Homo sapiens: one gene and its partners. The protein of the gene in region 1 interacts with the protein of each later gene in a biochemical or structural test. Each region holds a gene or a part of one and is shown on either strand. Other genes may lie near its edges.

Region 1 (6,956 bases):
AACCTGACAGTCATCTACCTGCCATCTGAAGCAGAAATCTGAACTACCATCCAAGACTCCTCTCTCTCTCACCCACCAAGTCTAATTGATCACCAAGTCATTCAACTCCAGCTCATTATCACTCCATCCCTCCCTCTCCATCATCCCTGCCCTGAACTAATTCAGGTCTTTATTACCTCCTGCTTAAAATGGTACAAGAGCAGCCTAATTAGTCTTCTCTTCCATTCATCCACGTGGATGTCAAAGTTACCTGTCTAAAACAAAAAAAACGATCATATCATTCCCTGCCTTAAAACCCTTTTATAACTCCCCACTGCCTGAAAGAGAAAGTTCAATCTTTTTACTATGGCAAACAAGATCCTTCATGATAAGGCCCTGCCTTTTTCTTCAAGCTCATGGCCCACCATCCTCCTTCCCATGCTCCATGCTCCAGAAGTACTGAGCAACCTCCAGTCCTCTCACACACCACATGCTATCCCACTCCACCACATTTGGAATATGCTGTTCCTTTGGCCTGAAATACCTTCTTTCCTACCTCTACTCACCCTTGAAGAGCTAACACATTTAACTCCTCAACGGAGCCTTTCCTCACTCCTCAGTGATCACTCCGACCTCAGACCTTCTGTACACTTGGTAAATACTTCAGCTACTCTCACACACACTGAAATTAATGTTGTACACGCTTAAGTTCCTTACAAGACAAAGCCCATGTCTTTCTCATCCACTTATGTCCAGATTCTAAAACAATGTTTGGCAAATAGTAAGCATCAATAAACGTTACTGAGTGAAGGAATGAACATACACTTTCTAGTCCAGCTTTGTGTCTGTTTCCTGTTCATAGTCAGCTGGTACAACTGTACAGTATTTTACAGTTTCCAAACATTTTCACTGTGTCATTAAATTCATGTGTTTGGCCAGGAAAGCTTGCTCACGCCTGTAATCCCAGCACTTTGGGAGGCCAAGGTGGGTGGATCACCTGAGGTCAGGAGTTCGAGACCAGCCTGACCAACATAGTGAAACCCTGTCTTCACTAAAAATACAAAATTAGCTGGGCATGCTGGCAGGTGCCTGTAATCCCAGCTACTCGGTAAGCTGAGGCAGGAGAATCACTTGAACCCGGGAGGTGGAGGTTGCAGTGAGTTGAGATCTCACCACTGCATTCCAGCCTGGGCAACAAGAGCGAAACTCCATCTCAAAAACAATAATAATAAAATAAATAAATAAATTCATGTGTTCATGTACTTACTGCATATCAATTCTGCTGGAGACCACTGGAGTTACACCATCAGTAATGGGAGGGGGTGGGGCTACTCTGGAAAGGATGATCAGGGAAGGTCTTCAAGCTAAAAGCTAAAAGGATCTAAAGGATAGATGTGGGTAGAGAAAGAGAACAGACTTGAAACAAAAGCAAGAAAGCCAGTATGGCTGAAGCAGAGTAAGGTAAAGTGATTTATTCAACCGGAGCTTCTTAACCCATGAGATAGGACAGATAATCCCCAAATTCAAATGTTACAGGATTTTCCCAACTGATGAAGGAAGCTAGTAACAAAACCCAGCCTCATCATTACAAGCTAGGCTTTTCCCAAATCATCAGCTGTCTATGACATTTACAGATACAGACAGGCACTGTCCAATACAGTATCCATTTAGCCATACAAGCACCTGAAACGTGGATATTCCAAACTGCTATGTGTTGTAAATGTAAAATACACACCAATTTCAGACCTATTATGAAAAAGGAGTATAAAATATCTCATTGAGGCCGGGCGTGGTGACTCACACCTTAATCCCAGCACTATGGGAGGCCAAGCGGGGCAGATCACTTGAGGTCAGCAGTTCGAGACCAGCCTGGCCAAGATGGTGAAACCCCTCTATACTAAAAAACAAAAATTAACCGGGTGTGGTGGCGTGTGCCTGTAATCCCAGCTACTCGGGAGGCTGAGGCAGGAGAACTGCTTGAACCCCGGAGGAGGAGGTTGCAGTGAGCCAAGATCACGCCACTGTGCTCCAGCCTGGGCAATAAAGTGAGACTCCATCTCAGAAAAAAAAAAAAAATCTCATTGATAATTTTCATCTCAGCTTTGAATATTTGGGGTAATCAGATTAAATAAAATATATTATTACAATTAACGTCACCTCGTTTCCTTATCTTACCAGAAAGATTTTAAATTACATATGTGGTTTCTATTGGACAGCAGCGGCACACACCCTCTCAGTATGTTTTTCTTTATTATGAGCTCCCCAAGGGCCAGTTTATTGAAAATTCTGCACAATGATTGCTGAGGTTTGCACCTCCCCTCCTCTCATTCCAGTTTTAACCCTAGCTCTGAAATTCGTGTTTTGCTTAACTTCTTTGAGTTTCAGGGGCTTTTCATGCTTCCAGTAGGAATGACAGCCACTTCGTGGCTCTTTTAGGAGCATTAAGTAAACTTTATCGGGCAACACTGACAGCCCCGTCATAGTCACCGCGACGGCCAGCTCACCCGGTAGCTCTCGAAGGCCTCGTCGATGGGTGCCATGGCGTGAGTCTGGTGCTCCTGGGACTCCCTGCACACCAGGCACACTGGCCGCTGGTCGTCCTCGCAGAAGAGCCGCAGCGGCTCCCAGTGGCGGCCGCACAGGCCCGGGGGCACGGGGCCCAGGCGCCGGCGCTGCGTCTTCTCAGTCAGCCTGGCCAGGGCCCAGTTGGGTCGCAGCGCGGCGGGCGCCGATGGGTGCCGACATTCGGGGCAGGGGAACGGGCCGCCGCCCGGCGCCCAGTTGCGGTGCAGGCAGCCGCGGCAGAAGTTGTGGCCGCACTCGATGGACACCGGGTCCTGGAAATAGTCCAGGCAGATGGGGCAGGTCAACTCCTCCTGGATGTCCTCAGCTTCCATGCTGCTTCCCTGCCGCGGAGACGGAGTCCGACGTGAGGCGCGGGAGAGGCCAGCAAGCTGCGAGCGGCCGCGGGGAGGCCAGACGACTTCCGAACCGCCGTCACCGCCTCACGTAAAAGGGTACAACGCAGTTTCTCTTCCGGGGTTCAGGACCCAAAAAGAACGCACGGACGTTGCCCGGCCTGAGCGCGCAAGACCGGAAGCTGCTGGGTATCCGCGCCGGAACCGCGAGGGGGTTGGTTCAGGCCTAGGCGCGGGGCAGGACGGGACCGGTGAGTGGCTCCTCCAAACAGCTATAGAGACCCAGAAATGCCTGTGGAAAGCTACAGAGGACTTGGGCAAGGCGTTAGAGCCGGACGTTGTGGTCCCTGGGGGAGCCAACCGGGGAGGTGCCTATGATCTTTCTTTCCAAGTTTGAGGGTTCAGGTCTGTGTTCGCCTGCTGGTTAGACCGATTTAAGTTTTAGAGTCCCAGGAGTTCTGGGCGAGCTGCAGCCTAGGGGCCTGGAAGGCCAGGAAGACTTGAAGGATCTGTGTTGGTAGGCCTGGAGTTTGGCTAACGTGGGGATGATTTGGATTCTGAGATGCAGATACATTGCCTTTTTGGTATCCAATTTGAAAAGTAGCAACCATTTTGCTATCCCAAAGAACATCCATGGAGGCTTTCAACAAATAATATGCTCACCTGTTTCAGGGAATTATCTATATCCCTTAAGTGGATTTTCGATCTTGTGTTTCTGAGGTGCTTTGCTTTTTATTCTTCCCACTTTCTTCCTTTTCTTGTGAATATTTGTTTAAAACAAAAAAAACTCTGGACTGACAAATTTAATAGAAGCTATTTGCACAAAGAACAGTTCATGAATTGGGCAGCACTCAGAACCAAAAGAGGTTCAGAGAGCTCTGTCCAGCAGTATGACCTGCTAGCTTTTATAGGAAGCAAAGTAGAGAAATCACCTCATTAGCTAACATCTAGGTGTCTGCCTTATTTGACAATGATATGATGAGGCATTTGCCTTATTGGGGCATGGTCTGATCAGTTGGCTGTCTGTTATTTGCTGAAGCTCGGCCGTGATTGGCTGAAACCCAGCTGTTATAAAAAATAAAGTAAGTTAGGCTTCAGTTCGTTTACATACTAAGTCAGGTTGTATTTTGTTATATGGGAACTCAAGTACCAAGACAGCCTCAGGCTAATGGGCTTTTGCTTATTTAACAGATTTTTCATTCTTTTTATGTCCCAATATCAAATACTGCCTTTCCTATAATAATTTTTCTCAGTAAGTAGTATGATTAAATGATTAGAAAAAGGGGTTCTTGAGGTATCTGTTTGGGGGTTATTGATGAAAGTTCCACTGAATATTTCTAAAACATTTAAATTGGACAACTAATGAATGGATTTTCTTTGCAAATTGGAATACTCTATGGAGAAGGGATCTGGTTCTTTAATAGGGACCAAGCAGGAAGGAATGCTCTTAACAGTTACTGATGTTTACCATGAGTGTTTATGGCATCTGTGTGTCTATATGTTTACCTAAGTATTGAATGAGAAGTTTCAGCATTCCTGCAAAGTATTTATTCCCCTTACAGTAGTCATTTAAATCTTTTCAGGTAAATCCCTTAAAATCCTTATGTCTTTATTCCTGCCATACCAGAGATGACCTTCCTTCTTTACTAAGTGAGGCTCCCTAATTAACAATTTTTCTCCATCACAAAATGTCTATAAGTCTGTATACCAGCCAAGGTTCATTCAGAGAAGTGGAATCACTATGTTTCTTTATGTTCGCAGGGCAAGCAGTTAAGAAGGGAAGATGAACATAAAGTAGGGAAGAGCAAAAATGAGTTGGAACCTAAGACACGAGCTGGTCATTCTTTCACTGTCTCCAACTTTAAAGATATGAGTATCCTTGCTAGAGGAGCTGACACTTTTTGCCACAGGACTAGACACACACACAGCTCAGGAATCAAAAAAGGTGAAGGAAGACTCAGGGAAAAGCTTCTGCCCCATCCCAACAAGGTGAACCAGCTGATTGGTGACAAAGTAGATGAGCCGCAGTAGCACCTAGTGTCCCTGCACCACCGTTTCAAGTATAAAACTGGAGGGATGCTTCAGTTCTCCCCTTCAAGACTTACACAACCATGTCTCTGTTGGGCTATTCTAACCAGAAACAAAAGGAAAGGAAATTCTGGGAAACATAGTTTAGCTTAGCAAAGTTGATATATTACAAAATTACCACTGTCCACTCTGCATCGAGTTGACATCCATACAGACCTCTTTAAAACACACTTTCAAAATAAAGTCCACACCCTACACATAAGCTATCTCTAGAGAAATTTGAAGTCTGTTGTGCACTGAGGATAACCACAACAACAAACTGTAAACCTAGCCCAATTTCTGACTAGACTGATACCACCGAACCACTGCTATGCACTCAAGAGCACTAAAGGCCTAGCAGAAGGAAAGACACACTCATCTCCAAGCATAAAAACAATCTTTACTTCATACTGTGAAGAGAGAATTGAAAAAATAATTTAAGCAAAAAAAATACAACATGACTAACTTTTAACAGAAAGAAAAAAAGACGCATACAGAAAGGCAAGAAAAAACACAGTCCAAAGAGATAAAACAATCATTAGAACCAGATTCATAAGACATAGACATTAGAAATATGAGAGAATTTTAAATAACTGTGATTAATGTGATGAAGGCCCTAAGGGGAAAGGTGAACAAAATGCAAGCTCAGATGGGTGATTTTAGCAAATAGATGGAAACTATCAGGAAAAATAAAATGGAAACTATAAAAATAAAAAATATAATAATAGAGATGAAGAATGCCCTCCATGGGCCCATTAGGAGACTGAACACAGTTGAGGAAAAAATCAGACTTGAAGGTAGGTAAATAGAAATTGCTGAAACACACACACACACACACACAAAAAGAGTGACAGAAACAGAACACAGCATCCAAGACTGGTGGGAAAATATCAACATCAAATCAAGAAATAGGCGCAGTGGCTCACCCCTGTAATCCCAGCACTTGGGGAGGCCGAGGCAGGCAGATCACGAGGTCAGGAGATCGAGACCATCCTAGCTAACGCAGTGAAACCCCGTCTCTACTAAAAATTCAAAAAAATTAGCCGGGCATGGTAGCAGGCACCTGTCGTCCCAGCTACTCGGGAGGCTGAGGTAAGAGAATTGCGTGAACCCGGGAGGCGGAGCTTGCAGTGAGCTGAGATCACACCACTGCACTCCAGCCTGGGCGACAGAGCAAGACTCTATCTCAAAAAAAAAAAAAAAATCAAGAAATAATGGCTGAGAATTTCCAAAATTTGTAAGACACCAAACCAATCCAAGGAGCTCAGAGAACACAGAGCAGGATAAATTCTTTAAAAAGAAACTAAGCTTATTGTATTCAAACTAAGCTTATTGTATTGATACCTGGTAGTTATAACTTACCAAATACACTGCCCAACATCTCCAGATGATCTATTATTTCTGAAAGTTTCCTTTATTACATTTCTTACTTCAGGGAGATATAGCCTTCGCTTCATGTTATGGTTGGTGCAGTCAGTATTCTCAGAAAGAAAGTACTGGTTCCATTTTACCTCCATCTTTTGTTTCCTGTCAGAAAACCTACCATACCACCAAGTACTCCTTCTCTACACTGCCTCTGATATTTAAGTAATTTGAGAATTCTGTTGAGACTATCTCCCTTTTTTGGTATGATGAATCTGGTCCTAAATTGCATGCCAAAGACTTTGAGAACTAAACTGTAGACCCAGATCTCATGTCCCAGACTGGCCTTTTGTTACCCACACAATGAATGGGTTAAATTGCTTGGCAGGGGACAGTCCAATGACCACAACCAAGGAGGATTTCCCAGGGGGATTTTATTACTTGCGATAAGTAAGGAGGACACTGGGAATAATTCCCCAAAGCAATGCCTCCCTGAGCAATGGTGCAAACATGGCTTTTATTAGTCTGGTTAGCTGAGTCATTGTATGTAGAGGTGGAGTCAAGGCAGCGCAGTCCCAGTTGTCGGTTATGCTGCTACATATGTCACATGTATAGAAAATGGTGAATAAG
Region 2 (7,379 bases), on another chromosome or scaffold:
TTCTAACAATTTTTTTACTGGCTCTTCATCAGTATATGTGATAAAACAAAATCCTCTTCTTTCATTTGTTTTTGTATCCATGGGAAGTTCAATATTTTCAATCTGAAATCGAGATGCACACTCAACGTCATCCCATAATTGTAAAACGTTACAGTGTCAGAATGCCAAAGGCCTTTTCAGGCTTCAACTTAAACATGTTATTCTTATCGGGTGACTTCTATACAGACATCACTGCTTTATGATCAACATCAGCCTACAGTGATTTGTTGTATATTTGAAGCATTGAGAGAAATTAATATTATTTTGTACCCAAAGATGCCACTAGTTAACAAGTCCAAACACTGACCACATTTAAGTGCCCATGTTTTAGCTAAATTAGATAGTTGGGTTTCCATCAGAGCAGCAATGAAATCAAGGTACAGTCACTGGAAGCGACTTGAGCAGTCATTTAATTCTACTCTTACAGGAAACATGAATCTGCCCTGCATAAATCGGACAAGGATTGAACATTTTATAAACACATCAAGCTTAACATGTGTAAACATAATCACACACCTCTCCAAAGGCTCCAAAATATTCTTTAATTTGTTCTTCAGAAGTATCCGGGCTCAATCCACCCACAAAAACCTTTTTGGGAGGTTCTTTCCCTTTTAAAGCTTTGGCCCTTTTGGGATCTATCAATTTGCCATCCAGTTTGTGTTCTTTCAGTTCCAAAACCTACAAGACAGATTTATTTAATCTGACAGCACCATATAACCCCCAGAAAAATTTGCAAAACACCACAAAAGCAGCACAATGCAAAACATAGTTCCTACCTTATCAACACTAGCAGCATCTTTGAAAAGCACAAATCCAAATCCTCTTGATCTCCCAGTGACTGGATCTGTTTTAATTGTGCAGTCTACAACTTCCCCAAATCGAGACAAGTACTCTGTCAGATCTTTTTTGCTTGTATCCCAGCTCAAGCCTCCAATAAACATTTTACTAGAAATAAAAGTGTTTTTAAAAAAAATTAACAATAACTCAAATGATCCTTCAGTTCTGGAATTAAATCGTGAAATAAAAACAGGGACATTTACCCCCTAAGTGTAGGCAATTTAATTCATGTTTACATTTAATCTATGTCACACAAAAATCCCAATATCCCAACGAAGTTACTCAAACCAGCGGACAGCTCACTGTCCGCACTACATAAAGCAAAGCTCAAAAGAGACCAATAAAATACAGTAAAGGTTCTGCCCAGATTCCTTTAGGTAGAAGGCACAACTTCCTAGATGAATCCCTCACATCTTATCTTACTTAGGTCCATCTTCGTTCTCAGCTGTCAAGCCAACGTTCCACCCAGAGAACTCATCAATCATAACACGTTTTGTGAATCTGGGTACCAGTCGCCTGCTTGTGCCCCAACTCAGTCCTCTAAAACTCTTCCCAGGAAAACCGCGCCGAGTGGTAACAGAGACACAATGAAGAGGCGGCGGCAGCTGCAGCGTGCAGCGCTGGGAGGCCGGCCCCTCCCCCCCGGGTCCCACGCGGCGCCTGCGCGCTCGGGACACAGACGCCGCCGCCCTCCTCCTCCAACCCCTCCGCCCTTCCCCCACTCTTCCCGGGTCTCTCCAGTCACCCCCTCGATCTCTTACTTTCCTCTTCCCTCCAATCTAGTGGGGCCCAGAAGGCACGCGGGGAATCGACTCTGAGAAAGAATGGGGGCAGCGCGCGGCTCACGAGGAACGAAGGGCGCGTGCGGCGCGCTGGGGGAGGGGGAGCGGGGGAAGAAGCGTGCGGTACCCGTCATCCTGCTGATTCTTGCTCGCGTTGATCTTGGATCCCTCTGCGAATTCCTCTATATTGCTGTACTCGTTCATATCCTCCATAGTGACGGAGCTGTCGGCAGGGGGGTGCTGGCGCGCAGTCCGGGTCGCGGCAGCAGCGGCGGCGGAGCGTTGTATGGAGCTGGATTTAAAATGGCGGCGGAAGAGATCCGGGCGCCGCCTGCGCCCTCCCTTTATAGCCGCCCCGCCCGCCAATCGGGAGGGCTGCTGGGCGGTGACGTGGCGCTGGGCCCGGCGCGCCCCCTGCCGGGCGGAGCTGGGAGCGAGCGAAGGGAGGAGCGGGGCTAGCTGCCGCGGCGGCCGCGGCCGCCAATGGGAGAGGCTGCGGGAGGCTAAAGTAGCGGGAGCGGAGGGGAACAATGGCGGCGGCACATGGGAAAGCCTGGGCGGGACCTCCATCGCGGCCCTCCCGGCAAGGAGAGAGGCCACGCGTGAGGGGACGCGGGCTTGGGAGAAGAGAAGAATCAGAAGAGAAAAACGAAGGGGCGTAAATTCCTGGGGTCAGCAGTCCCGAGCAGAGCCGACGCAGGGCCACAGTCCCTCTTGCCTTGGGAGCCTTTGTCTCTGGCGTCCGGTCCAGCCCACTCCTACCAAAAAGCCGTCAACCCCGCCTTTTTCTGCCCTCGGTTCGCCAGTGCGGAGCCGCTGCGGCGGCCGCTGCTACCGACTAGCACCGCGGCCAGTCTGCTCCGGAAAAAGGCGGACTGCGCCCGGCGCTGGCGACTGAGGCGGCGAGCGCGCTCGCCCGCCGCGCGCACGCGTGTTTTGTCCTCGAGCTGGCAGGAACCAGCCGAACAGGAAGCGGGCGCGCGACGGCTCCTCCGGGCAGCGCAGCGCGGGCGCCTCTTCCACTGTGACCACGGGCGCGCGGGCCAAGGGGGCGCGGCGGGGCCTCCCGGGCTGATCGGCCGAAGCCCGGGCCCCGCGCGGCCTCTGGCGGGCTGACGCCGGGAGGAGGGGCGGGGGCTGGCCAGATGACTGTATCTATGCAAAGGCGGAGGCGGTGGGCGGGGAGGGGGCTGGATTCAGTAGAGGGCAAGGGGCACTCACATCCCCGGCGCGCCACTCGCGGGGCTCCTTTCTGCACGTGCCCCGGGCCTCTCCCGCTCGCTCAACCTGTCTGCGGAGGGCGCGCTCTCGCGCACCCTGCTCCCGCGTTCGCTTCTTTGTTCCCGCCCACGCGAGGCCCATTTTGACGGATCCAGTTCGAGGCCTGACGGCGGCCAATCGGCGCTGGCGCCTTCACCCTCCCCGCCCCGCCGAACCCGTCAAGGGCCGCCCCTTTTCCTGCCCACGTGGTCTCGGGCTCCTGCCCCGTCCTGCTCACGAGTTCAGGGCTCCTGGGCGGCCGCCTTTTCCAGTTCCAGGTGTGCAGAAGTGTCCTCTCCCCACGCGCGGCGGGCTGCACTTGGTCGCTGGCTCCGAGATCGCGCGGGGCCGCCGGAAGCCCAAGACGGTACCGGGGGCCGCAGCCGCAGCCGGCGCCGCCCTCCGCCCTCCCCAACAGCAGGCCGAGTCCCGTAGCATCCGGTAGGGAAATGGTCGTGCTTTCGGTCCCCGCCGAAGTCACCGTGATCCTGTTAGATATCGAAGGTACCACAACCCCGATTGCTTTCGTGAAGGTGAGGGGCGGAAGGGAGCGGGGATGTTACTTTTCCTTAAAAACAGTTATTATTTTTTCTAAGTATTTCAGGCCTTGCATTGGAGACGAGGGTTAGGAGAGGCGGTGTGGCTGCCTCTTGTGTGGAATGGGGAGGAAGGAGAGAAAGCCTGCGGTGGGTTGCGGGGATGCTTTTCCTCGCGACACTAGCTTCTCCCTCCCCCGCCCTTGCGCTTGGTTGGATCCAGATGGGTGGGAAGGGATGGAAGTTGACGCTAAAAATCACCGAAGGGCAGGTAAGCCGGGGCGGGGTGTGACGGTGCGGGCCTCGCCACCCGGCAGGTGTGCACCCGGTCGCTTCCGCAGGTGAGCGCAGCCTTTCTGCTCCGTCGGGCCTGGTGTGGCAGCGGCAGCGATTTAATGGTCCTTAAAGCTTCCGATCTCAAAATGGAAAGACTGAAGTGTCAAGATGACTTTTCAGGTGGCCCTGGTGTCGGGCAATCAAGGTTCCTCTTCGCCCCTTCCCACTCTTGCTGTTAGTGGCCAAACTGCACAGTGTATTATTTTACTCTGTTAGGCGCTGTGGTCCATAGCGCTGATTTTTTGAGCTATAGGACACGTCTAGATTCCGTTCACTTTCCTCAGAAAACCACAGAAGCTTGAAGCTCTTATCCAGAGCATTCCTTCTAGGATGTCACTGTGAACCAGCACTTGTCTGCACCTCAGCTTGCAACTTAGCGGATTCCTTCTTTATTCTTTGTCTGTTAGAATAAGCAAATATGAAATGTTACTTTAATTTTTGAAAGAATTCCTCGGGCCTTGTCTTTTTATTTGGCTCCCTGAGGTTTAAGAATTCATTGCAGATACAAGTACTTCTTAGAGGTGCTTGCATGCACAATAATAGTCGAGATATACAAAGTATATTACCAAGTAGGAAAAATCCATCTTCCAAGAAACTGAGCAGCTTGGGTTTTAAATTCTATTTTAGTTTCCATTTTTAAAAAAAATTATCTGTGAATAAGGCTTTTTTTTTTTTTTCTTTGAGAGTCTCACTCTGTTCCCAGGCTGGAGTGGAGTGGAGTGGTGCAATCACAGCTCACTGCAGCCTCTACCTCCTTGGGCTTAAGGCATCCTCCTGCCCCAGCCTCTCGAGTAGTTGGGACTGAAGGGAGAGCCACCATGCCTGGCTAATTTTTGTATTTTTTGTAGAGACGGGGTTTCGCCATATTGCCCAGGCTAGTCTGGAATTCTTGGCCTCCCAAAGTGCTGAGATTACAGGCATGAGCCAAGGCGCCTGGCCTGAATGAGTTTCTTGATGTAGGTTATAATATAAAATCCATGTACACTTTTAGGACACCAAACATAACAACCTTTAAAATTCTTTTAGAAGAATCACAGTACCTTGACATCTTAGCATAGGTTCAGAAGAAATCGAGTTTAGCATTTTCTCCACGGTTTTTGTTTTTGTTTTGAGGCGGAGTCTCGCTCTGTTGCCCAGGCTGGAGTGCAGTGGTGTGAGCTCAGCTCACTGCAACCTCTGCCTCCCAGCTTCAAGCGATTCTTCTGTCGCAGCCTCTCCAGTAGCTGGGATTACAGACATGTGCCACCACACCCAGCTAATTTTTATATTTTTAGTAGAAGAGGGTTTCACCAGGCTGGTCTCAAACTCCTGACCTCAAGTGATTCACCCACCTCAGCCTCCCAAAGTGCTGGAATTACAGGCGTGAACCATGGCACCCGGCCTCTTCCCCACGTTTTGTTTTGTTTTGTTTTGTTTTGTTTGAGACAGAGTCTTGTTCTGTCTCCCAGGCTGGAATACAGTGGTGCAACCTCTGCTTCCGGGGTTCAAGCGATTCTGGTGCCTCAGCCTTCCGAGTAGCTGAGATTACAGACGCGCACCACCACGCCCGGCTAATTTTTGTATTTTTAGTTGACCAGGCTGGTCTGACCTCAGGTAATCCTCCCGTGTCGGCCTCCCAAAGTGCTGGGATTATAGGCGCGAGCCACCGCGCCTGACCTTCCCCCACGTTTTTAATCACACCAGAGACCTCTGCGGAAAATTTCAGGACAAATACTGATGATTGATTAATTTCCTTTTTTTTTGGATTGTGACAGAGTAACCGCTTTCTTGGTTTTCAGAGAAAAAAGGAGTCCTCATTTTTGTAATTTATAGTTAACAGCTCACTCGTTCCACTCTGGCTCTCTCTTGCTTTCTGCGGTCATCAGGAGACCAAGGATAAGGACAGGAGAGGTAGTGATGTGGCATTAGATCATTAGATACTACCGTTTTCTGAAGGTAGATTTGGGGAGTAAGAAACCTCATACAAAATCAATTTTGCAACAAAACATAATACCCCTCCCCCACCTTTTTCCCCAAGTGTGTCTTCTGCTAGATGACATTATGAGCCACTTCTTGGAATCTTTGTGTCTGTGGCAGACTTATTCTGAAATCCAAAAATAAAAATGTCTTAGTTGCCTAAATAAATTTTTCTGAATTTGACGCTAGGCAATGTGCAATTTCAATGCAGGCTGCAAAAGAATGATTTAGGGATCTTGTTTAAAGGATAATTTCTTGTGCCCTGTCCTATAATAATATCTATTGTTATTAATATTGTTAATCTATTATAATCTAATCTATTATTATAATTTGTTAGACATGAATTTATCAAAACCATTTTTCCTAAAAGTATGTTTAAAAGAAAGTTAGGTCTGTGTGGATGTTTATGGTAATTATGTAAAAAAGGATTCCATTAAATGCACTTTTGGGAAATGCTAGTTAGAATGAGTTCAAATAGATTTCTTTATTGCAAGACTTCTCAGAACCTTCGGTATCATACATATATATACACACATACACACTTTGTGAGATTTCAAGAGAGTGACATTTCACAAATCTACTTGAACAAAAAACTTTTAGTAGAGTATCTCAGTGACTAATCTTTTAAACACCTTTTAAAGAGATGCTGAGTTACATTCTTGAATCTGAGCACGGAAAGGTTGAGCATGGGAGTTGAAAGATAATCTGCTTGGAGCTTTAAAGTCAGAGTAGGTGTGTGAACTTGTAGCCCTTCCTTCTGTGGAATGATGGAAGGAAACATTGAGTACTGTATACGTGCAGTACTCAATCCTTGACTCATTCTAAAAGACCATGAGGTGTATGTACTGTCTACACTTTACTTAGGATGAAACAAAGCCTCTGAAAAGTTGAACAAGATGCCTGGGATTTGAACTCAGATTGTCTTATTCATAAAAACTCTTATTTTTTCCATTACTGCACTCAGCCTTGGAAATGGGATGCTACTGTTTGTCCTGTCTCCTTTGCTTGGTGGTTGTGTATGTTAAATGACACAGTTAGTATGAGAGTTCTTTAATCAATGTGAAGTACTGTGCTATAAAAGTATATGGTAACAAGCCAGGTACGGTGGCTCAGGCATGTAATCCCAGCACTTTGGGACGCCGAAGCAGGTGGATCTCTTGAGGTCAGGAGTTCGAGGCCAGCCTGGCCAACATGGTGAAAGCCAGTCTCTACTAAAAATACAAAAAGTAGGCCAGGCATGGTGGCTCATAATCCCAGCACTTTGGGAGGCCGAGACAGGTGGATCACCTGAGGTCAGGAGTTTGAGACCAGCCTGGTCAACATGGTGAAACCCCGTCTCTACTAAAAATACAAAAATTAGCCGGGCATGGTGGTGGGCACCTGTAATCCCAGCTACTCAGGAAGCTGAGGCAGAAGAATCACTTGAACCCAGGAGGTGGAGGTTGCAGTGAGCCGAGATTGTACCACTGCCTTCCAGCCTGGGCAACAGAGGAAGACGCTGTCTCAAAAAAAGAAAAGAAAAGAAAAAAAGGAATAAATAATTCAAAAATTAGCTGGGCATGGTGGCGCACACCTGTAATCCCAGCTACTGGGGAGGCTGAGGTGGGAGAATCGCTTGTACCTGGGAGGCGGA
Region 3 (7,021 bases), on another chromosome or scaffold:
AACTGGGGGAGAGCAGGTTTTTGCGTATTTGTTTGTGTGTGCGTGTTCTTACAGCTCAATGATAGATCACAAAGTCAGCCCCCATGGAACCCACCAGTGAGATCAAAATCCTAAGCAACACCCCAGAACTGCCTCCCACCACCAATTCCTACTTTCCAAAGCTAGCCGCTATCCCGACTTTTAACACTGTAGTCCATGAGAACTGGATGTCAGGCTGGAATGTTGTCTTAATTTCTTGACAAATGAGAGTGTTGGACAGGATATGAGAGTGTTGGACAGGATCTGAGAGTGGGTGGAAAACCTGCAGGAGGGAACTCAGCCCAGTGTCAGCAAAGCCAGGCAGGAAGAGGTAGAGAGGTGCTAAGGACACACCTCCCGCTGGCACCCAACCCCGACTCCAGCTCACCCAAGAAGCCATGATTGGGCACGTCTGTGTCCTGAAGGCAGCGTAGAAGCTGGCCTGGAACCAGGAGAGACAGTGTGAAGGAGTGCAGCTAGGAGGCCATTACAAGAACAAATGCAGATGGACCCAAACTGAGACCCTGGCCATAGAGCTGGAGAAGGGACTGTGATTCAAGGCTCAGACCGGAAACAAGAGCACTGAGCATTAAGTAGTGAAAGGAATTTTAAAGACATGGCATTTAAAATGTTCTAAAAGTCAATGTGCAAATGCAGGATTTGACGGCTTACGAAGGTTACAATGATAACCTTTCAAACAGGTGATGCGCATGACTTACGCTTTCACTGTAAGACAAGTCTGTGCTCCGAGACGCGCTGGAGTACAGGGTCCGGGTGCTGTCCAGAGTGTCATTCCTTCTGTTCCTCATGCTGAGCCTGGCTGCCCGAAAGGACATCTTTTCTGTGACGATGGTTGGAGGGGATAAGTTTGGGTTACAAACAGTAACAGGGCTTCCTTCAAAGCTTCACCCCAATGCCGTTTTCCCTCCACCCTCTCCCCTTTGCCACGTGCAATGTCCCATGCTCCATTCGGCCCACCATGGTCATTGTGCCTCTGCCCCTAATTCCTCTTTACCCTCCAAGACCCAGATGGCATTTCCACCCCTCAGCCCATCCTCCCTGGCCCCTCACCCCTGAGTCAGGATCCCCTCCTGGGCACCCCCTCTTTGCAGTGGCCAAGTGCATGGCCCCACCAGACTGCAAGCTCTGAAAGGGCAGTCTGTAGCACATGCATCACAGTGCACTCCATCTGAGGGGCTTGCAGTAGCTACTTGCTAAGTAATGAATTGAGGATGAAGGGAATTTACAGAGCAGACTATGGCTAGCAGCCTGCATTGGCCAGAGGACTTGCACCTCAGGCAGAAAAGAAGACCCCTGCCCCTGAAGGGTGGTGGGTAGGGCTTGGGGGTCAGTCTGTCCCAGGTCATCCTGAGACTCTAACGCCCAAGACTTCCCTCTAGGGCTCTGGAGCAGGCTGCTAGCCTGGGCATTGCAAAACCTTATCTGTCATGCAATGCTTCCCGGGGTCCCTGCTCTGTTTTTCTCACTCTAATATGCCCCCATCCCATACTTCAGGAGGCCCCTCTCCCCTCGTCTCCCAAAGTCTAACTCAGACCCACATCCGAAGCTCGAGACAAAACCCGTCAATGCCTACTCAACCTCTGGGGTTGTCCTGCTGACACAGTAAATGAAAGCACTGTCCTTCCTGCATACCGTGTCTCCCTGAGTCCCCTCCTCCTGGCTCCAAGCTCCTCCCTGTCTGTCCCACCACATCCCAGCAGCAGTCCTTCCTCCTCACCCCTTCCAAGGCTCTCGCGTTGTCTCTGCGCTCGGCCCTGCTGGTCTCCACCTCCCCGGCCTGACTGTGCCCACCTCCCTCTCTCTCTGGACCTGGCTTTCCTAGCTGGGGTCCCACCTTCTGTCCAGAGCCCTCTTCCCCATACCCCTCCAGCTGTCATCTCCTGCTCATCCTCCAGGCTCAGCTCACTCATCATTTCTTCAGGGAGATGCCCCACAATGCCCAGGCTGAGCAAGTGCTCACCTGCCTGTGTAGCCCCTTCAACCTGCACCAAGCTGTGGGCATCATGATTTGTTTAATGATCTGTTTGACCCCTGTTAACTTGCTGAGGCCAAGGACTGTATCTTGTTCACCACTAGACTTCCAGGGCCTGGCACAGTGCATAAAGGAGATCTGCATATTTATTTATTGGATGAATAGTTTGATTGAATCAATACTCCCTTGCAAATCCTCCTTCGGTTTGCTAACTATTTCCACGTCACCTGTTATAACTCCCGAATGCAGAAATGTCTAAGACACAGAGCAGACCCACCACTCAGCCACACTCTGCTCTCAGACCCTCAGCCCAGGGGGCCATGACTCCTCCATCCAGATCGCCCCTCCCAGGCCAGCCACAGGCCTCCCACACCTCAGAGACTGGCACTGCTTTAAAATGCACTCCAAATGGTTGGTCTAGACTGTTTAAAACAACAAGCGCTTCTTTTACTTCTCTCCCCAGGCATTTCAAAGAGAAGCTGAGAGTATTAATTGGCACTTTACATACATCATTGCAAAACCACAGATCAATCCTGCAAGGTATTCACTATGATTCCCTTACAGCAAACTGCTTCTAAGTAGGGCACCAAGGCTTAGGAAGTGACTTCATTTGCCTTGAAATGAAAAACTGTTTATTTCGCTGCAACAGAAAAGGGGTATTTTTGCCTTCAAATCACATTTCTATCAAAGAAAACATTGGGAAGCCATTTAAGAGATGCAGCAAATAGCCCTCCTCTGACATTCCGAATGCCTTTCTCAGCAGCTGGTAGTCTCAACTGGTTCTCTGAGACCAGTTGATATTCAAGTTGGTTGACTGGGTCTTGGCATACAGTCTTAGATAGCAGCTATCCCAGTACTGCAGGTTTGTTGATCTTCTAGACACATTGTTGCAGGACTTCAGGCTCAGAAGTAAAAGAAGCATTGGAAGAAGGAACTTAAGGCCTGAGGTCCAAGAGAAGCGATATGGGAAGAGAGCAGCTGGGTCCCTGGAGAGTGAGAGGAGGGGTCTGTGGAAAAGGAGATGCCCCTGAAAGAGATAGAACGGGAAAGGCAGGGGGAGAAAGCCGATCCCTTGGTGCGTCATGCGCCAGGGAGAAGTAACAAAATCACACCGCCAGATCCAGCGATCCAAAATTCCCTGGAAACAATGGGCAAAGGGCTGGGATGTCCATGCCCAGCATGAGTCCTTCCGCTCCTGACTTGCCCACCTTGGACTTATCTGTCAGTGTCAGGAGAAGGTCCCTGGGGATGATCTGAGCACACCAAAGCCTAGGAGGAACTTGTGAGAAGCTTATCATCCATGGGGATGTCTTCTTATTGCATTCAACACTTTCCCCCCAACACTGTAAAAGTAGTTGTTTTTATTAGAGTTTTGATCTGGTAAAGAAAATCCTGACTGCAGCCTCCCTGCTCTTCTTTCTGCCCAGCATGTTCCCCTTATTCTGAAGTCCTGATGGTTTACTGATTCTAACCAGATATTGGTCCGAAATTTTCACATTGATTGTAAGCCTCTTTACATGCAAACTCAATTTTGGCTGTTTTTGTTTTTTTCCAGCTCTGGACAGTTTGTTGTTGTTGTTGTTGTTTTATTGTTTTCTAGTTACAGCCTCCCCAGGCAGAAGAGAGAGTGAGGTGCTTCCCCAGGCACGACAGAAGCTGAGACTAGAAGTCTCAAGACCCATGAGTGAAATGCTTAATTGACAGTCGTCCTTACTTCTAATGAAGCTGGCACCCTAATCAAGTGTGGCAAAGACTGGCAGCACCGTGTGACCCCATGTCAAACCAGAGGATGTGCTCGAGATGTGCAGTGGATGCCGGCCCATGGAGCCCTGCGTGGTAACCTGGTGCCGGCAGCATTGGGCAGGCAGAGCACGGCAGCAGGGGACATGGGGCTGTGTCCCTCCACTTTAGCCCACCCCACCAAGGAGGGAAAACCTTGGTACAGCTGCACCACACCTAGCTGTGGCCATTGCTAGAGGAGCCATGGAGAACACTGGAGATTTGTCATGTCAGTAACAGGCCTTTCCAAAGAAAAGAATGTTCTACTTACAAGAGACAGTCATCAGAAAATCAACAGAATAAATCTTCCCCAAGATAAAGAAAGATTTGAGTCTTCACAATAAAAACCTCACTGGGTCTGCTGCCAAGCAAAATTAATAGGGCCAGAGGTATCCAGATGAAATCATTTAAGTATAAGAATAAACATAAAAATGGCCGGGCACGGTGGCTCACACCTGTAATCTCAGCACTTTGGGAGGCTGAGGCAGGCGGATCACGAGGCCAGGAGATCGAGACCATCCTGGTTAACACAGTGAAACCCATCTCTAACAACAACAACAAAAAAAATTAGCCAGGCGTGGTGGCGGGTGCCTGTAGTCCCAGCTACTCAGGAGGCTGAGGCAGGAGAATGCGTGAACCTGGGAGGCGGAGCTTGAAGTGAGCCGAGATCGTGCCACTGCACTGCAGCCTGGGTGACAGAGCGAGACTCTGTTTCAAAAAAGAAAAAAGAATAAACATAAAAACATACAAGCAATATAGCAGAAAAAAATTACTAAAGGAGAAAAACCAGGCTGGTATAAAACTTCTCTTCTTCAACACTATAAACTAGAAGAAAATGGAACAGTGTTTACATTTTTTTAAGAGGGAAAAGATTGTGATCTAGGAATTGTATCCTGAGTCAATTCAGCTGTGAGGGCAGTAGAAAGACACACTCAGGAATGGGGAACAAGGAAGGCAAACACTCACATAACTTTAGGCAGCTCTGGAAAGGGAGACAGGGAGGCTGGAGGGAAAATGTCAGATATAAATAATAAGTAGAGATGACGTGGTAGAGGTTTTTTTTCAGTTTAAATGTTTATATTTTATCTCAATGCAGAAAGAGTTGAAGAAACTTACTAAAATATTATGTAAAGCAAAGGAACCAAAGAGAAATAAATGAGCTGAGGATAAAATAAGAGAAAGAGACTGGTTAAGTGAGGAGCTTATCCAGCCACAGGGGAAGCCTGTTCCAAGGTCCTCAGGGGGCACTAGAAATCATGCCCTAAACTTACCAATGGCCAAAGCAAAGGGATTGTAAAAAGAAAATAAAATTTTAGGACCTTCCAGGTTGATTATGCCAAGGGGAAAAGTGAAGCTCTGAAAACAGAGTCACATAGCACAGCTATTTTTGCACAACCCTTGCTGACTGACTTTTGCAAGGGTTGTGCAAAACCAGATGGAGATGTTCTACCTTAACCGGACTCCCTATCCTTCATTCTAACCTAGACTTAATTGATGTTGGAGACAGAGACCCTTGCGACTGTAACCTCTTTACAATAGACTGTTAAGCAACCCCCTTAGAGTATAAACAGTAGTAGTCAATCAAATCTTACATTTGTACAGTAGCCTTCATACAGAAAATGTGTTTCTGGCCGGGCATGGTGGCTCACGCCTGTAATCCCAGCACTTTGGGAGGCCAAGGCAGGGGGATCACTTGAGGTCAGGAGTTTGAGACCAGCCTGGCCAACATGGCGAAATCCCATCTCTACTAAAAATACAAAAATATTAGCTGGGTGTGGTGGCGGGCACCTGTAATCCCAGGTACTTGGGAGGCTGAGTCACCAGAATCCCTTGAACCTGGGAGGTTGCAGTGATCCGAGATCACGCCCCTGCACTCCAGCCTGGGTGACAGAGTAAGACTCCATCTCAAAAAAAAAAAAAAAAAGAAAAGAAAAGAAAAAGAAAAAAGAAAAAGAAAAAAAAGAAAAGAAAAAAGAAAATGTGTTTCTGTTCGGCACCTCTGGCTTTGCCTGTATAAATGATTCTCCCTTTTCCCCATCCCAGGTGCAGTGATCACCATCCTTTGCTGTCATTCTGCTGTCTGGATGGCGGCCCTCATCTTTGCACTTGAATAAACTCTTTTAATTGGATCCTGAGCCTTTTGATTATTTTAGGTTGACAGGATGAACATAGTCAATTACAAGCTTCAAGGCATCCATAAACTAACTTCAAACCCACATTCCCTGATACAGAGGCCAGGGTGAAAAGAACTCCTACATTTGGGGACAGGTAGGATGAGGAGGATGGGGTGATTGTAAAGGGGCAGAGTGAAGGGGCTTTTCTAGTGATGGAACAGTTCCAAAATTCGGTTGTGGCAGTAGTTATACGAATCTACTGACGTGATAAAATTGCATTAAACTATACACACATGAATGAATGCATGTCCAAGTGGTGAAATCTGGGGCCGGGCGTGGTAGTTCATGCCTGTAATCCGAGCACTTTGGGAGGCCAAGGCGGGTGGATCGCCTGAGGTCAGGAGTTCGAGACCAGCCTGGCCAACATGGTGAAACCCCATCTCTATTAAAAAAATACCAAAAAATTAGCCAGGCATGGTGAAGGGCACCTGTAATCCCAGCTGCTCAGGAGGTTGAGGCAGGAGAATCACTTGAATCCAGGAGGCGGAGGTTGCGGTGAGCCAAGATCACACCATTGCACTCCAGCCTGGGCAACAAGAACTAAACTCCATCTCAAAAAAAAAAAAAAAAAATGGTGAAATCTGATAAAGCCTTTGCATTGTGCCAATGCCAATTCTCTGGTATTAATCTTGTATGATAGTTACATGAGGTGTCACCATTGAGGGGAACTGGGTGAAGAGTACACAGACCCTCTCTATGCTTTTTCCTCTTCCACTTCCTGTGAAGCTATAATTATCTCAAAATAATAAGTTAAAAGAAAAATGCCTATGCCAAAAGCACACTGGGCCACATAGTGGTAAATATCCCTGCACAGCCATGCAAGACTTACAGCACTAAACTTAGCCTGGCTATTTCTTAGAATGTCCTGAATGCAAGTTGAAGCTATGCCATGAAAGTAAAATTCAATGGAATTATCTCCATGGCAGGCCCAAAGGAAGGGACCTTCACAGAGAGATAGCTAAGGATTTGTCCAGTTCTAGGATTTACTTGTTTAACTATGTCAATCTTTGCTTTCATGTTTTTAATCAATAATCTCAATTATTTCTATTCATGGTCT
Region 4 (7,898 bases), on another chromosome or scaffold:
GCTCACCAGTTAGCAGGGAAGGGGCCTGGGGGAAATTCTAATCTCCCTGTCCCTCCTCCCCACCTTCCCACACATGGGGCTCCGAATCTCTGGCGATGCCTTCCCAAATTACCCTGGGCCCACTCTGACCCCAACACCCTCCCAGTCAAGGGCTAGGCGAATGGGCACGTCTGTGTGCACTCACACAGGCACATACTCACTCACACGGAAGACAGACAACACAGAACGGAGAGCTGACTTGGTGGCTGGGCTTGTCCCACACACTGGAGCACAGCAGTGAACGAGACACAGGTCCCTGTCCTGCTGAACTTATACTCTAGTGAGGCAGGACAATCAACCCACTACCTAACGATGGCAGGGACTATTAAGAAAAACAAGCCTGGGCGTGGCAGCTCACACCTATAATCCAGGCACTTTGCGAGACCAAGGTAGGTGGATCACTTGGGCTCAGGAGTTTGAGACCAACCTGGGCAACATAGTGAGACACCATCTCTGCAAAAAAAATACAAAAACTTGCCGGGCGTGGTGGTGCACGCCTGTAGTCTCAGCTATTTGAAGATTTGAAGGGGCTGAGGCAGGAGGATCACTTGAGCCTGGGAGGTTAAGGCTGCAGTGAACCGAGATCACACTACTACACTCCAGCCTGGGTGACAGAGCAAGACTCTGTCTCCAAAAAAAAAAAAAAAAAAAAGAAAAAACCAAAATAGGAAGAAGAATGGCACTGAATGAAGGGAAGTCATGAAAGGTCACTCTGTAATGGTGGCAGCATGCAGAGACCTGAATGAAGGGGGAGTGGGCCATGTGAACGTTTGCAGAACGGCAGTCCATGCAGGAGGAACTGCAGGTGCAAAGGCCCTGGGGCAGGAACAGGGGCATGCATAGCACAGTGGAGCCCCAGCGAGGCCAGTGTAGCAGCAAGCAAGCAGCAAGCAAGCAGGGAGAGCCGAAGGAATGAGGCCAGTGGGAGGGCAGACCCTGTGGAGCCTTGGGCATGGCCAGGCAGGCTCACTGTATCCTAGAGGCAATGGGAACTTGCTGGAGGATTTTTAGCCGATCAGATTCATTGTGAAAAGATCAACTTGGCTGCAATGGCAAGAGAGAGGCAGGCACCGTGTCCGGGGAGAAATGCTGATGACTGGGCCCAGGTCGTAGAAGTAGAGATGGGCAAGGTGGACAGAGAAAAGGTTTTAAAGTAGCAATAATAGTACTTGCTGATTCGACTGGGTGGTAAGAGAGGAATCGTGGTGCTTTGCAAATGTGTATCAAGGCCTTTGAATGCACGCACGCATGCATGCACCCACACGCACACATGCATGCACCCACGCACACCCGTGAGCCGGGCTCCCTGCTCTCACCATTGGCCAGAAGGTAGAGTACCAGCTCCTCGTGCCCACACAAGCAGGCATAGTACCTGAAGGGAGGAAGGAAGTACAGGAGGCAGTCCTCAGTGCTGAAGGGGTGCACCAACCCCCACCCTCCCCACCCCTCTCTCCAGCACTCACAAGGGGGTGCTGTCCCACTTGTCCCGCACATTCACCTCCACGTCTCGCTGCTCCAGCAGGTACCTGGGCAGGAAGGAGGTCAGAGCCTGGGTCAGGACGGGTTCATGGTCTGAGAAAGAAGGCCCGTGGAAAGGAACGGAGAGAAAACATCCCTTTTGGTATGGGGAAGCCTCCCCCAGGTGAGGGCAGGTGACAGGCAGACCAGAGCAGGAGAGGCACTCAAGGCAAAGTGCAGGCAAGGATGTGGAGGTGGGGTCGAACAGGCAGACACTGTGTGCTATCAGTGCTGGGGGACGATGGGCTACAGGGACAGAAGCCAGAGCCAGTGCCGAGGCTGGACCTTTGGCCTTTCAGCGTTTGGGAGAGGAGGTGATGGAGCCTTCACTCCCACCAGAGCTCTCTACTGCAGGAAGAAGCTGGCCCTGTTAGAAGCAGGGAGCCCGGGAAAAAGCTGCTGCAGGCCTCCTGATGGTGTGGAGGGCACACAATTCTAGGAGGCAGGAGTCGCGGGATACAGCAACTGATGGGATGCGGAAGGTGAGCGAGGGGAGTCGCCAATGCTAATGCAGCCCCACTGAGGCGGGGGCAGCCCAAAGGAGGCCTCCAGGCTGCACCTGGAAGTGCTGTGAACCCACTCAGCGTTGACACTATGCACTAACTCTTGAGTGGCACGGGATGTCAGGGAGCGGCCCAGGGAGGCTACGGGAGTACAGCAGCCCGGCGCCAGCCCAGGGGAGGTGGAAGCAGTCAGTCAGCACCAGGTCAAGGGGGAGGAAGGGCCAAGAAAAAAGGAGGTCAAACGGGATAGTGGAAGCCCAAGGAGGGGAAGGGCCCCAGAACCCAACTGGGCACCCCTTCCCTCCGCGTCCGGCCCATGGAGGGGGCATCTCAGCGCCAGATTCACTTTAGCTGCGTCAGGAGTTTCCGAATCCTCAGGGACCGGAGGCCGATTATGGGCTCTAGGTGTTCCCCGCGCCAGGTCCAGAGAGCACGAGAGAAAGGGGCCACGTCTGGAGTCCCAGGCCTATACCCGCGCCCTGCGCCCGGGGGGTCTGACGTCCGGGCCCTACCAGGGCGAACAGTGGCCCGCCTTCTCTCCGCCCACTTCTGCGCCTTCGGGCCTCCGCTGAGCAGTCCCTTCTTACAGGAAGCCCTCCGGGGGTCAATGGCCATCAGTGTCCCCGCCCCAGCGCGCTTCCGCTGGGGGGCTGCGGCGGGGGTCCGGGTGGTCTGCCCCGCGGGGGCGCTCCGAGGGCTGTGACCCGGCAGAGGCGCCCGCCTCTCCGCGGCCGCCCAGCCGCCCGTCCCAGGGCCCGAGGCGTTCCGAGGGCGGCCACCTCCCGCACCCTCCCCGGGACTGCGAGGTCCTCACCGCACTCGGCCCACATCCCCCTTCCTGCAGCTGGCGAACAGGTCGCTGGTGTCCATGGCGCGGAGGATGGTACCCGAGCCGAACGACCTCGGGCGGCGAAGCCGCGCACCCGGCGGATGTAAACACGCTCAGCCCCGCCCCGCCCCGCTCTGCAGCGGCGTCCGGAGGACCCGCCCGCCCCGGCCTCCCCGCCCCGCGGCCCCGCCCCTGCCCCGGGGTGCCCCGCCCGCCCCGCCCCGCCCCAACCCCGGAAATAAGAATGAGTCAAGAAGGCAGACGCGCTGGGCCCGGCGTGGTCTCCGGGCGGGTTTAATTGAGTCCCGGGGCGCAGGAAGCGCCGCCCGCCGCCCGCGGGGCCGGGGTTCAGGGGCGGGAAAGCGGGGCCAAGGCGGGCTTTGAGGCCTGCCCCTCGGGCGGGAGTGAGGGAGTTGGTCCGAAGCCGCCGTGTGAAGTCGGGGGAAGCGGGAAGGAGCCCGCGCCGAGGGCCAGGCCGCGGGGGCGGCCCGGGTAGGCGCGGGGCTGGTGCGGGCTCCGGGCCGTCCGTTTCGGGGTCCACCTCGCTTGGTCCTGGCGGCCCACTCGGCCTGCGCCTCGGCTGCGCTCACAGGTGCGTGTCCTCCTCGAACACGTCCGAGTCCTCGGGGTCCCGCTTGCCCCCCATGAGCGCCCCCCAGCTCCCCGGGCCGTTGAGGGCCCCGCCGCCGTTCAGGCTGGGGTGCTTCTCCTGCATCTCCGACTGGCTGTCGCTGGCCACGTCCAGCGTGGGGTTGTCGTGGCAGCCGTTCTCCACGAAGCGCAGCTCCTCGCCGTGCGACTGAGGCGGGGTGGGGAGAGGCCATGGGCGAGCGAGCCAGCCCCCGGACAGCGCCAGGCCCGCGGCCGTCTGTGCAACCCCACCCAGGGGGTTCCCGCGGCACCCTCCACAGGTGCCAGATCCTTCTTTTCTGTTGCTGCAGCTCAACTCCTTTCTCAAAATAAACCTACTAGTCGTTGGCACTACAAAGCCCCGTGGCCTCCCTGACGTCATCGATCCCCCAACAGCCCCCTAAGAAGACTCCACTTGCGAGGTGGGCAGGGAGCATCGCTAGGGCTCTGCTCGCTTCCTCCTGGGGAGGCCTCTAGGCTGCTGGAGCCTCTCCTTGATCCTTGGGCACCACCAACGCAGGGCCTGCCTCTGGTGAGGTATTCAGGTGCTCAGGCCCTGCAGTGCCTGCGCCGGAAAGGGGCTGGTGGTGCCAGGGAGGGGCCCCCTGGTGGGGCTAGCAGCCCCCTCACTCCCTGCACCTCTGGCACCTGTCCTGGGGCTGGTGCCCTGCAGAGCAGTCAGCAGTGCTAGGCTGACCAGCTGCTTCACCCACGGGACCCTGTGCGCCCAGGAGAGTCACTGCCTCCCCTTGCAGATGAGGACACCTATCGATGGGCACTCTCCTCTCAACTGGCCCCCAGCCCCACCTGTCCCCACACTCACCACGTGCTTGAGCTTGGGCAGCCGGCGCTGCCAGCAGTTGTAGAGCAGGCCAAGCGCAATGATGATGATGCAGATGGCCCCAATGACCACCAGCACCACGAAGAGCGTGCCGTAGTCGCTGCGCACCTGGCTGGCCCGCGCCTGGCAGCTGCTGGTTGTGGAATAGTTCTGGATGCCAATCTAGGGGTGGGAGGGGCCAGTTTCCTCAGCTGAGGTCCTGGGGTGCCATGGCTCCTCTGGGGTGGTTGCATTGGGCTCGGGTGGGGATGGGGGAGCAGGCTTAGAAGGTGCTGGCACTCCCGGCTCCTGAAGTTCCCTGGCGCCTGGGCTTGCCTCTACCCCATGCCCATCCCGTTTGCCTCAGTACACCTGGAGGCCTCTCCACCCCATGCCCATGTTCCCAGCCTCCTTCACATCCCACCATAGCTTCTGCCCCAGCCGCTGAGTCTGAGCTCACTGTGGCCCTAGGCCTCCAGTGAGAGTGGACCCATGCTGCTGGACACCATCCAACTAGAGAGAGTGCCCACACCTATCCTAACTAGTTAGAGAGACAGGAGATGTGAGCCCCCCACACATCCTCCACCATACAACCGCTTCCACCTCGGTGGGGAGGGGTGGACCAGTCAGCTTCCTGATGCCAGGGCCGGTGCAGGGAGGGATACTGAGGGCATGCAGGCCACATGGGGGGCCACCCCGGCTGCCCAGCTTCCTCCCTTCCCATGGCGTGTTCACTGCTGGCATGTAGCTGCCTGCATCCCTCCACGCTGCAGGTTGTCATGGTCAGTCCTGCCTTCTCTGGCCAAGGAGATCGGCGCCAGGGGCCAGGCAGGTGCTATCTCCACAGATCAGCATCTTAGCAGAGAGAAGCAGGAGGGCGAGCACCACCAGGGGCTCCTCAGGTGAGGGATCAGGGCAGTTCCCAGTGCTGAGGCCTAGGTTGCACCAGGCCCCCTTTCTGAGTTCAGGTTGCAGCTCTTCCCCGGTTTCTGTGAACCACCCGTGTATCTCCAGTACTTTTCTCAATTTTTTGTTATCAAGGGTCAGTTTTTCTTGCTAGATTCACCTGAGTATATTTCCAAAGACCCAGCATGACTTTTGGCCAAGTCAGTGTGAATTAAGTGACCAGTAACGCCAGAATACTCAGGGGCAGCGAAAAGCAGGGGGAGGACTGTATAAAAGGTCAAGGTTAGCCCACACTTCCACCAGCAGCCCCACTGTTCATGGACCCACGATTCCAGAACTGGGAAGGGCCTCAGTGGCCCTCCAGGCAGTAGAGCAGTGTGGTGAAAGGCCCGGGCTCCGGAATCAGGCTTCCTGCAAAGCCTGGCTCTACCGCTTACTGCTGGTGCCATCTCAGACAGGTCACCTAACCTCTCCCGCTTCAGCTCTCATCTTCCATGGGGACACCATTGGTACTCAACAGGTGCCTCACTTAACCCTCACAACCCCATGGGGTGGTGGCGAGGACTGAGGGAGAGAGCCTTGCACAGTGTGGTGCTCAGTGGGCATTCGACATGCTCACCAGAAAAGCACCACCACCAGGGCCTCTGCTCCCCTGGCATGCAAGGATGAAGAGGCGGCCAGCATTATACCACTCATCTCTCCTGCCAAAAATGGCAGCACCTTCGGGAGTGGAGAGGGCTGATGACAGGGCACTGGACTCTACAGTGAGCAAAGGCAGTTTTGGTGGAGATGGTGGCTGTCCTCAAGAAGTGAGATGAGGAACAGAAGGACCCCATAGGCAAGGTGGTGTGAGGAGCAGGACTGGGGGACCCTGCCATCCCATCCAAGCTTGTGCGGCAGCTGGGTAGGAGAGGTTGATCGGGATGGGCCAGGCAGCCAGCAGACTGCACTGGGTGGGGGCACCTCCTAAGATGGCAGGGCTGCCTCCTGGCCCCCAGGCGCCGCATCTCACCGCAGCAGGAGCGCAGGGCCTGGCCGTGCAAGCACCAGTAGATTCACACGTCCACGCCAAGTCACATGTCCAGGTCTCCCAGGCTTGCTCTTTTGGTTTCTGGAACCCATCATGCTCGCCCCTCCCACCAGGCAGCATGGTGTCTCTGCCACTGTCTACCCAGAAAACTCCCAGTTAACCCTCACTGCTCCCCAGACCCTTCCTCTCTGGGCCCTCTCCTGACTGTCAGCCTCTTAGCACAGCCCCCACACCCCCATGGCCCCTTTCTGCCCCTGGCCATTGCCTGCATTGGACCTTTGGTTGGTAGCATGCACATGCACCGTCTTTCCCACAAAACCATGTCTAAGGGAGGCCTGAAGCAAGGAACCTGCCCAGAGCACGCTCTGTCTTATACTCCTTTGAACCTCACGATGTGGGCAGACTCCTGGGACTTTGAGGAACAGAGACAGGAGGGAGCATATTAGAAGCTAACAGGTCCAGGTCCCTGCACTCTTACCTCCTCCAGGCTCCTGCGGATGTCACCCAGCATGGAAAGGACATCTTGAGTGGGCACCACCCCTGGGGGGTAAGAAACACCACTATCAGTGTGACCATGGCTGAGGTGCGTGCCCCTCCAAGGGCTCTGGCCCCGCTCTCCAACAGCTGGCCTGAGCCTCTGTCTCCCTTCCTGGCTCAAATTGCACACAGATCCTCAAGGCACATGCCTCCCCCTCTCTTAGACATGCTTTCCACTGCATCGATCTGTTAGAACATCGATTTGTATAACACCAGCCAGCCACTTGCGAAGCCCACACACTGCCTTCTGAACACACCCCTTCTCCCCTGCCACACCAGGTACAGTGTCCATTCATCTCCCACCTGTGCTGGACCACACCTGTTCCCCTGCCTCCTGTTCCCCATCCTTAATTCTCACACCCTCCTCCTTGTCCCCAGAACCCAAGCTGGTGGGTACACCTTGACCACTAAGCTAAGTAGCTCAAACTACTGTCCTGGAGTTCCAAGTTTCAAAGCCCTTATGCGTGCACTTTTTTCCCGTGACCCTCAGGGGCCGCCCGCCTCCCACTGCCCTCCTGGGCCCTCCCATCACCTGCCCTCGCTCACCCTGCTCGCCCACCAGTGTCATGAGAAGGTGCTGCTCCTTCTCGCTGGGCTTGCTCAGAGAGATGTGCCAGGCCCCATGGTGGCCACTGCCATGGCGGGGCAGCACCTCTTCCACCAGGGCCAGGAGCTGTGGCCCCCGGTGCTGCCGGAACACCTCCTACAAGGGCAGAAAGAGCCCCCCGTGTTCAGTGAAGGAAAGGGGCTCTACTGAGCCCTCTGCCTCTAGGCCCAGCCCCGTACTCACCCTCAACCCTCTGGCTGTTCCAAGAGAGGCAGCTCTGGTCAACTCTGGAGACCCTCTGAGAGCTGCAAGCCAGGGAATGTGGGAACCCCAAGATGTACACCCATTTGTTCACTTACACCAGGTGCTCCTTCCTGCCCTGGCCTCTAGCCATGAGAAAGTCAAGGGGCCTGTCCCAGAGACACATGCAGTTGAGCGGGGCGGGGGCTGGGGACACACACACACACACACACACACACACACACACACACACACGCAGCCATGTACAGTGACAAGCCCAGAAACTGGGTACACAGAGT

Evidence for each region.
Region 2: the proteins of TRIM4 (region 1) and HNRNPDL form a complex in vitro, tested with the Homo sapiens proteins (one study listed by BioGRID).
Region 3: the proteins of TRIM4 (region 1) and TRPM8 form a complex in vitro, tested with the Homo sapiens proteins (one study listed by BioGRID).
Region 4: the proteins of TRIM4 (region 1) and ABTB1 form a complex in vitro, tested with the Homo sapiens proteins (one study listed by BioGRID).

The regions. Positions count from the first base shown.
Region 1 is NC_000007.14:99,916,526-99,923,481, forward strand, and holds the start of TRIM4 (E3 ubiquitin-protein ligase TRIM4), read right to left. Parts: upstream 3,006-6,956; 5' UTR 2,877-3,005; coding exon 2,484-2,876; intron 255-2,483; coding exon of another isoform or gene 177-254; intron 1-176. UniProt on the Homo sapiens protein: E3 ubiquitin-protein ligase. Mediates 'Lys-63'-linked polyubiquitination of the innate immune receptor RIGI, this linkage doesn't lead to proteasomal degradation but seems to enhance IFN induction.
Region 2 is NC_000004.12:82,427,463-82,434,841, forward strand, and holds the start of HNRNPDL (heterogeneous nuclear ribonucleoprotein D-like), read right to left. Parts: upstream 3,001-7,379; 5' UTR 2,229-3,000; coding exon 1,786-2,228; intron 985-1,785; coding exon 816-984; intron 718-815; coding exon 556-717; intron 103-555; coding exon 1-102. Other genes in the region: ENOPH1 (enolase-phosphatase E1), read left to right, coding at 3,368-3,451. UniProt on the Homo sapiens protein: Acts as a transcriptional regulator. Promotes transcription repression. Promotes transcription activation in differentiated myotubes. Binds to double- and single-stranded DNA sequences. Binds to the transcription suppressor CATR sequence of the COX5B promoter.
Region 3 is NC_000002.12:233,920,371-233,927,391, reverse strand, and holds part of TRPM8 (transient receptor potential cation channel subfamily M member 8), read right to left. Parts: intron 860-7,021; 5' UTR 855-859; coding exon 738-854; intron 1-737.
Region 4 is NC_000003.12:127,668,058-127,675,955, reverse strand, and holds the start of ABTB1 (ankyrin repeat and BTB/POZ domain-containing protein 1), read right to left. Parts: upstream 3,005-7,898; 5' UTR 2,931-3,004; coding exon 2,875-2,930; intron 1,612-2,874; coding exon of another isoform or gene 1,566-1,611; coding exon 1,503-1,565; intron 1,412-1,502; coding exon 1,356-1,411; intron 1-1,355. Other genes in the region: PODXL2 (podocalyxin-like protein 2 precursor), read right to left, coding at 3,476-3,688, 4,343-4,522, 6,754-6,815, 7,359-7,515. UniProt on the Homo sapiens protein: May act as a mediator of the PTEN growth-suppressive signaling pathway. May play a role in developmental processes.